2 linked regions of the Homo sapiens genome follow. The protein of the gene in region 2 binds, or shares a complex with, the protein of the main gene of each other region. Each region holds a gene or a part of one and is shown on either strand. Other genes may lie near its edges. The genes, in order: CALM2 and ATP2B4.

What was found.
Region 1: the proteins of ATP2B4 (region 2) and CALM2 are in contact, whole or in part, in an NMR structure (PDB 2KNE), measured with the Homo sapiens proteins. Residues at the interface, in NP_001675.3 of Homo sapiens: Leu1086, Gly1089, Gln1090, Leu1092, Trp1093, Phe1094, Gly1096, Leu1097, Gln1101, Ile1104, Lys1105, Lys1108, Ala1109, Phe1110, His1111; in NP_001734.1 of Homo sapiens: Leu33, Leu40, Met52, Ile53, Val56, Ile64, Met72, Lys76, Met77, Lys78, Thr80, Glu84, Glu85, Leu113, Glu115, Met125, Glu128, Ala129, Phe142, Met145, Met146, Ala148.

Annotation. Positions count from the first base shown.
Region 1 is NC_000002.12:47,169,942-47,173,761, forward strand, and holds part of CALM2 (calmodulin-2), read right to left. Parts: exon of another isoform or gene 2,519-3,820; coding exon of another isoform or gene 2,473-2,518; exon of another isoform or gene 824-2,472; coding exon 793-823; intron 1-792. UniProt on the Homo sapiens protein: Calmodulin acts as part of a calcium signal transduction pathway by mediating the control of a large number of enzymes, ion channels, aquaporins and other proteins through calcium-binding. Calcium-binding is required for the activation of calmodulin.
Region 2 is NC_000001.11:203,633,284-203,637,103, reverse strand, and holds part of ATP2B4 (plasma membrane calcium-transporting ATPase 4), read right to left. Parts: intron 1-3,820. UniProt on the Homo sapiens protein: Calcium/calmodulin-regulated and magnesium-dependent enzyme that catalyzes the hydrolysis of ATP coupled with the transport of calcium out of the cell. By regulating sperm cell calcium homeostasis, may play a role in sperm motility.

The sequences.
Region 1 (3,820 bases), on a different chromosome or scaffold from region 2:
CAAAGCATTTCAACACTACAATAAAAAAAAAAAACAACTCCGGCAAGGGGGGAAAAAAAAGTTTCCCCAACATTGACATTAACCAGCCATCTCAATGTACAAGGATAAATCAAAAGTATTAATGTTCTATGGCATGGCATAAAGAGAACATGACATCAGGTTTTATGTAATAATTTTGCATACTTCCATAGCAAACTAAAAGGGACAAGATTTAAGCGGCTTCATTTCAACAGCTGTCACTGTTTTTTAAGAGAAAAATCCACATTGCTACAGTGACATTTATAGAATAGAATGCCAACTTCTTAAATTTTTTCACTTGAGAAATGGTTATTCCCTGACTGATTATATATGCAATTCTTAGGTTAAAATGTTAGCTAATTTTAACTAGGGTAAATTCAATTGTTCCTTTTTTGATTCTCCATTTCAAGTTGCCTTAGTTACTTCTTGGCCTCCTTTTCTAGCGTGTTAGCTAGCCCAGAATTCCTGTTTTATACTAAGGTAGTCTTCAGAAAACAAAACAAAGACCACCACTACACCACAAGGCTCCAAAGTATATCCACGCAGACTAAAATACATGTCTTTAACTACAATTAGCCCTGCACATCTTCCATCGGCAAGTTTACAATCCCACTTGCCAAAGCAGGTTGAATTACTGTATTATATTATACCCATATGTTAGTATCCATGACATATACCAAAGTCAATTATTTCATACAAGTCTCTTATTCTGACGTTGGCTATTCAATTTATAATAAGAATCTAATGGGTACAATCTAGCTGAGTATTTCTCACCTGCAATCTGCTCTTCAGTCAGTTGGTCAGCCTACAAAGAGATCAAAGAGGAAGGTTAGTGACTTGAGAGTATGTAGATTAGCAGTTACAGAAACAAGTTTAAAACCTTTCAAGGGTTACCATGTACTGTTTCATTTAGTTCCAGCAACAAACACATCTGGATAGAAAATGCACACATCTAGTTTCTCTTATCTTCAAAGCTAAGCTGTCTTAACTCCAAGTTTAAGATATACAAATACTTCAGAATATTTTTGAAAATATACTTTAGAATCCAATAGAAACATTGCTTCCTTTTTCAACGTTAGAATAGCTAAACTTAAGCTCACTTCTATTCCAGATATAAATCACCAGAAATTCCCACTGAATCAAAATGCTTCAGGCTCACAAAATGAAAATTACTCCCACAAATGGTTAAACACATTGTTTTGAAATTAAAGTGATTAAAAAAAAAAAAAGGCACAAACTTTTATTCCTTCTCACCCAGCAGGCAAAATGCAAAGAATCCAGAGCTCTGAACTACAGTACTATAATATTTACCAAATGTTTGAAAGTTCAGCCATCCATTTTCTCTTGGTTTTTAAAATCCCAAAGTAAGCCCAAGGCTTGTGATGTTTTTTTAATAGCACTTGGTTTTCTTCAGAAAATATTTTCTGCCATTTGCTAAAACCCATTATAAATTTTATCCTTATTCAATCTTAATAATAACCTTACAGTGGTATTATCCCCTATCTTACAGATAAGGAATGAGGCTAGGGTTAAGTGGGATTGGGGCACAGAAAATTAGTAGAACAAAGATAAAGCACTAAGGTGTCAGACATACCCAGTAACTTTTAGCTTTTAATTCAGAGCACCGTAATATATAAAGATGATTGCAAAATATCCAGACTCCTTGTTGTATTCTTTGAACATGCACTTTCTTTCACTGCTTATTAGTATATACATCCATGAAGCAACTGCTTATGGGGTATTGAGAAGCACAGACAAGAAATAGCCTCCTATCTAAAATCCCTACCAACATGGGAGTCAAGTATACAATGATTAATCCATTCATTTATTTATAGGTAAAAGAAAAATAAACATTGCCTGGCTTCATTCTTTTTAAATGAACACACCCCTGGAAAAAGTAACACCTTAATGTGGAACACATTTTCTCTAGGGCACATGAGAAAATTCAAGAAGGAATCCAGAAAGCAGTTTATTTTCCCTGCTCAACAATTTTTGTTTGACCATGATGTAAATCAAATTCATTAAAAAAAAAAAAAAAAAAAAAAGCTGGTAACGTAAAATTGAAGAGCCAATAATTAAGTTCAAATACAGAGTTTGTAAAATAAAAAATGTATCCACTTTTATCCCTAAAGTCCAAATCCTCCGCCAACAAATATTTGGTGTGAAGTCAGTCACAGATTGTTTACCCAAGGAATAAGGTTTAAAATCCAGTAAATCTGAGTTATTTACTTTGTATTAATAGAAGCTACATTACTTCAGTTTATTGCATTTTGCAGGACTTCCACCATTTCTGAAAGGAAGGGCAACCTGGCATGCGTGGCGTGGGGGGAAAGCATCAAGTTCTGAGTCACAGGCCAGTATCCCAGCCCTGCCATTTAATAGCTGTGTGACCTTGGACGTGGTACTCCTCCTCTCAGTCAACTTCATTTGTAGCACAAGAATAACAATACTTACCTTGCAGGGTTGTTGTGCAAAGTGAGATGCTATGTACAAAGCTAACCTAAAGAGTTAAATGATAACCATTATTTCATATAAATTAACAAAGAACCTACAATGTTAAATATCAACCTGACTAGCTCAATTTCCACACCGAATGTAGACATGCATGGCATTTATTAAGCCCTTTATGGTAAGCTTACTCTATTCAATGTTAACTTTGTTTAAGCTGAGAAAATTTATGCAAACTAAATCCACAAGGTGCAACCCAGCGACAGATGCAGCGGACATCACTTTAAGGCTAAAAAAAAGTTGAGCTAAATGTGTGGCAGACACTGCAGCCTGTGTGAAAGTTGAAGGATCCCGTACTCTGTACAGGAAGGGAGACAGGTTCGTTCTCTCTACATGGGTTGGGGGGGGGGGGGGGGTGGGAAATGGGACTTTGGGAAGGCTACTATATATGAAACATGAGAAGCCTTAGGAAGAAACGAGGATGTTAGCAATTTAGGAACCACTGTCCAATTTTGCTTGGAAAGTCAAAATTTAGGGACCTCATACCATCTTGTCTAACTCCCTACCTCCAAGCAAATGCAATCTTGGAAGAGATCACAAAAATGAGCTTCAAGGAATGAATTAAGCACCCAAGAGACCAAATTACTCACATAACCTGAAAGCTCTCAATTTTGCTTGGAAGGTTGAGAAGCTTTTTGTATTACTTATCCAGAGTTCAGGTTTTAGAATAAACTTTTACCAGCAATATCCAGATTAAAGCCTACTATAAATCAAGAAGACTTCCTAGCACTAACTTTCCCAACTGCTACAAAGGCGAATAAATTTGGTTCTTCCTTGTTTCCAGGGAGTGCCATTTTCTTAGAAGAACCAGAAGAATTATACTTTTGGGAAAACTCAAGCTCATTAACATGTATGTTTATCTCAGTAAAGTGAAGAAGAATTCACTAGAGAGATGACTTGTTCTTACTCCCTTATTTCTGTAGCTATTGACATAATTCTTCCCACTGCTCTTGCCACTCCAGAGAAAGTTCCTAGGCATTAGTATACTCTCAGGTTCCTCCCTAGACCTCCTGTACTAGAATGTTCATTTTGGAGAACCATAGGTGATCTGTCAACACTAAGGAGCACGACCCCGTATTACATTAGTGACCTGAAGTGAATACATTATGTACCTATCAAACATTTCCTACATGCCATTCAAAAGTATGCATGAATACTGTTGGAGTTTATCTAGTGAAAGGTGGTGTTCTTATCTGAATAAATGTGTGAGCCCATAGGCTTGAAATGGAACGCAAACTGCTATCCTTCATCCATTCCTGTCTGTTCATTCCCATCAGGTGCTACTTTGATACAA
Region 2 (3,820 bases):
ATTATGTGCCCTAGGAAACTTTGTGAAAGTTTGAATTTCTCTACCTCTAGCTAATATTCCTTAGTTTCTGGCCTAGGACATAGCAGAATTACGGCCTTGGAAGGTACTTCCTAATTGAAGTTCCCGGCAGGTGGAGGTGGGAAATCTTAGAACCTGTTCTACTCCCAAACATCAATGGTGGCAGTTCAAAGCCATATGCTTTTTGGCCTCTTTTCCCCTGGTCATCCTGGGCAGAAGGATGGGACTTGGCTGCAAATTGTTACATTGTGCTAGACTCTATCTGTGATAAAAGAGTTTGGTTTGGGCATTGAGAGTTTTACTCCTTTGTCTTCTATAGAAGAGGAGGGTCTTGAATCAGGAATGTCTGTATGTCCAAACTTGGTTTCATGTAACAGTGCAGTTGATGAAGGCCCAGAGATATCCCCTGCTTCAATCAAGGTTACACAGCAGACAAGAGTCCAGATTACCAGTTTTCTGACTCCCAGTCCCGTGCTCTTCTGGCAAGCCTGGCAGCCCACTAGAACAAACTCCTCCCTGTCTGCCCCCTTCCAACTTCCTGGCTCCCGCTCTTTCAGGCTCCCTCACCAACACAGAAGGGGAATTGACTAAAGGATTAATAGCCGTCACCTACATGAGCCTACGTAAAAAGAGCCCTGAGTCATGTAGGGCCTAGCCCCAGGGTTTCCAGGAGAAGAGAGGGAGAAAAAGAGAGAGAGAAGCCATCCTGGAAACTCAATCTCTCTCCAGAGCGACGATCAGGATGGGGAGGCGGGGGTGGGTAGCACAATGATTTGGGTCAATGACAGGACAGCCAGGTGTGCTGCCCTTGCCAAGGGAGTGCCTAGAAGGCCTTGCTTAGCTCAGGCATGAAGGCTCCAGGCAGGCACTGCTTGCTGGTTTCTTTCAGAATCACCTAATTAGAGAATTCTAAGGGACACTAAAGGTTTGGTCAGCAACAATCTCTGGGCTGTTTGGTGAATTTCTTCTCTTACAGCCTGGGACCTGTCTCCTCAAAAGTTAGGTGGGTGACTCTGGAAGCCCTCAGTCCCCAGGTTCCCTCAGCTGGCCCCATGGCATGGTGGGAGAATGCCTGTCATCCTACCTCCCTTTGTGGCCCACTCATCAGGGCCCAGGTGCTCCTGTCTGGACAGGAGAGGCTGTGGGTGGGGAGCAGTGAGGGTGGGAAGGTAGGCTTCCTAAAGGACCTTACTTTCTTAGAAGATCCCTCTGTGTGCTCCATGGGGACTCTCAGCACCCAAGAGCTTAGAAAAGACACTCCTATTGGTCAGGAGTTTTGCAGATAAAGTGAGAAGAAACCAGGAATCTAGGAGTGCCTCTGGCATGGACTTCTCTCTCTGGCTAAGTATTTGGAAAAATTTCAAACCTGAAAGGTTGAAAAAAATAGCACAATAAACAACTGCAGACCCTTTACTTAGTTTCACCTTTTTTTTTTGAGACAGGGTCTCACTCTGTCAACAGGCTGGAGTATAGTTTCATGATCACGGCTCACTGCAGCCTCAAGTTATCCTCCTGCCTCAGCCTGCTGAGTAGCTAGGACTACAGACAGGTGCACAGCCTCCATGCCCAGCTAATTTTTTATTTTGTAGAGGTGGAGTCTTCCTATGTCATCCATCTCTACAAAAAAACAAAACAACAATAACAACAAAAAAATTAGCCAGCCATGGTGGCATGCACCTGCTCCAGTTACTTGGGAGGCTGAGGTCGGAGGATTGCTTGAACCTGGGAGTTTGAGGCTGCAGTGAGCTATGACTGCACCACTGCACCCCAGTCTGGGTGACAGAACAAGGCCCTGTTTCAAAAATAAATGGGGGCTGAGTGTGATAGCTCAAACCTGCAATCCCAGCACTTTGGGAGGCTGAGGAGGGTGGATCACCTGAGGTTGGGAGTTTGAGACCAGCCTGACCAACATGGAGAAACCTCGTCTCTACTAAAAATACAAAATTAGCCGGGTGTAGTGGTACATGCCTGTAATCCCAGCTACTCAGGAGGCTGAGGCAGGAGAATCGTTTGAAATCAGGAGGCGGAGGTTGCGGTGAGCTGAGTTTGCAGCATTGCACTCCAGCCTGGGCAACAAGAGCAAAACTCCATCTCAAAAAATAATAAATAAATAAATAAATGGGGCCGGGTGCGGTGGTTCATGCCTGTAATCCCCGCACTTTGGGAAGCTGAAGCAGGTGGATTGCTTGAGCCCAGGATTTCGAGCCCAATCTGGACAACACGGTGAAACCCCGTCTCTACAAAAAATATGAAAATTAGCCAGGCATGATAGCATGCGCCTGTAGTCCTAGGTACTTGGGAGGCTGAGGTGGGAGGATAGCTTGAGCCCAGGAGATCAAGGCTGCTGTGAGTTGTGATTGTGCCACTGCACTCCAGCTGGATGATAAAGCAAGACCCGGTCTCAAAAACAAACAAACAAACAAAGAGATGCATTTCTGTTGCTTAAGCCACCCAGTCTATGATGTTGTTTTAGCAGCCCAAACTAAGATATGCTAAGACCAATCTTTCACCCAGTGGTTTTAGTATCCATTAAACGCTAGACTAAATCAGCTATTATAGTAGAGGCTGCAAACTGGTCAATTTAAAGTTCCAGTCTGGCACTGTGTCTCACCCATTATCCTGGTGCTTTGGGAGGCTGAGGCAAGAGGATCGCTTGAGCCTAGGAGTTCAAGGCTATGGGCCACTGCACTCCAACATGGCTGACAGAGTGAGACCCTATCTCTAAAAATAGGTAGGTAAATAAAGATAATGTTGGCTAAAAGATGCAAAGTTTCAGTAGACAGAAGGAATGTTTCTGAGATTTACTGCACTACATGGTGACTATAGTTAATGTAATGCATGTTTCAGAATTGCTAAGAGAGATTTTAAATGTTTACACTACAAAAACAACGATAAATGTGTGAGGTGATGGATATGTTGATAGTTTGACTTAATCGTTCCGTAATGTATGCATATATCAAAACATCACATTACACCCCATACATATATGAAACTAGTATTTTTCTATTAAAATTAAATTTAAAAAAATTTTTTTTGAGACGGAGTTTCACTCTTCTTGCCCAGGCTGGAGTGCAATAGTGTGATCTTGGCTCACTGCAACCTCCGCCTCCCAGGTTCAAGCGATTCTCCTGCCTCAGCCTCCCGAGTAGCTGGGATTATAGGCATGCACTACCACGCCCGGCTAATTTTGTATTTTTAGTAGAGACGGGGTTTCTCCATATTGGTCAGGCTAGTCTAAAACTCCCGACCTCAGGTGATCTACCCACCTCAGCCTCACATAAAATTAAATTTAAAGAAAAATCTTGTCATTACTACTAGATTTTATTAGTTGGCATTTACTTTATTTATTTATTTATTTATTTATTTATTTATCTGATATGGAGTCTCGCTCTGTCTCCCACTGGAAGTGCAGTGGCACAATCTTGGCTTACTGCAACCTCTGCCTCCTGAGTTCAATCGATTTCCGGCTAATTTTTATATTTTTAGTAGAGACAGGGTTTCACCATGTTGGCCAGGCTGGTCTCAAACTCCTGACCTCAAGTAATCCACCTGCCTGGGCTTCCCAAAGTGCTGGGATTACAGGTATGAGCCACTGCGCCCAACTGGCATTTACTTTTTAATTTTTTGAGACTGAGTCTTGCTTTATCACCCATTCTAGAGTGCAGTGTCATGATCAGAGCTCATGGGAGCCTCAAACGCCTGGGCTCCAGCGATCCTCCTGCCCTGGCCTCCCAGTGTGGTAGGATTACAGAGTGAGGCCTTGTGTCTGGCCTCGTTGGCATTTCTGTTCAGAGTTTTCCCT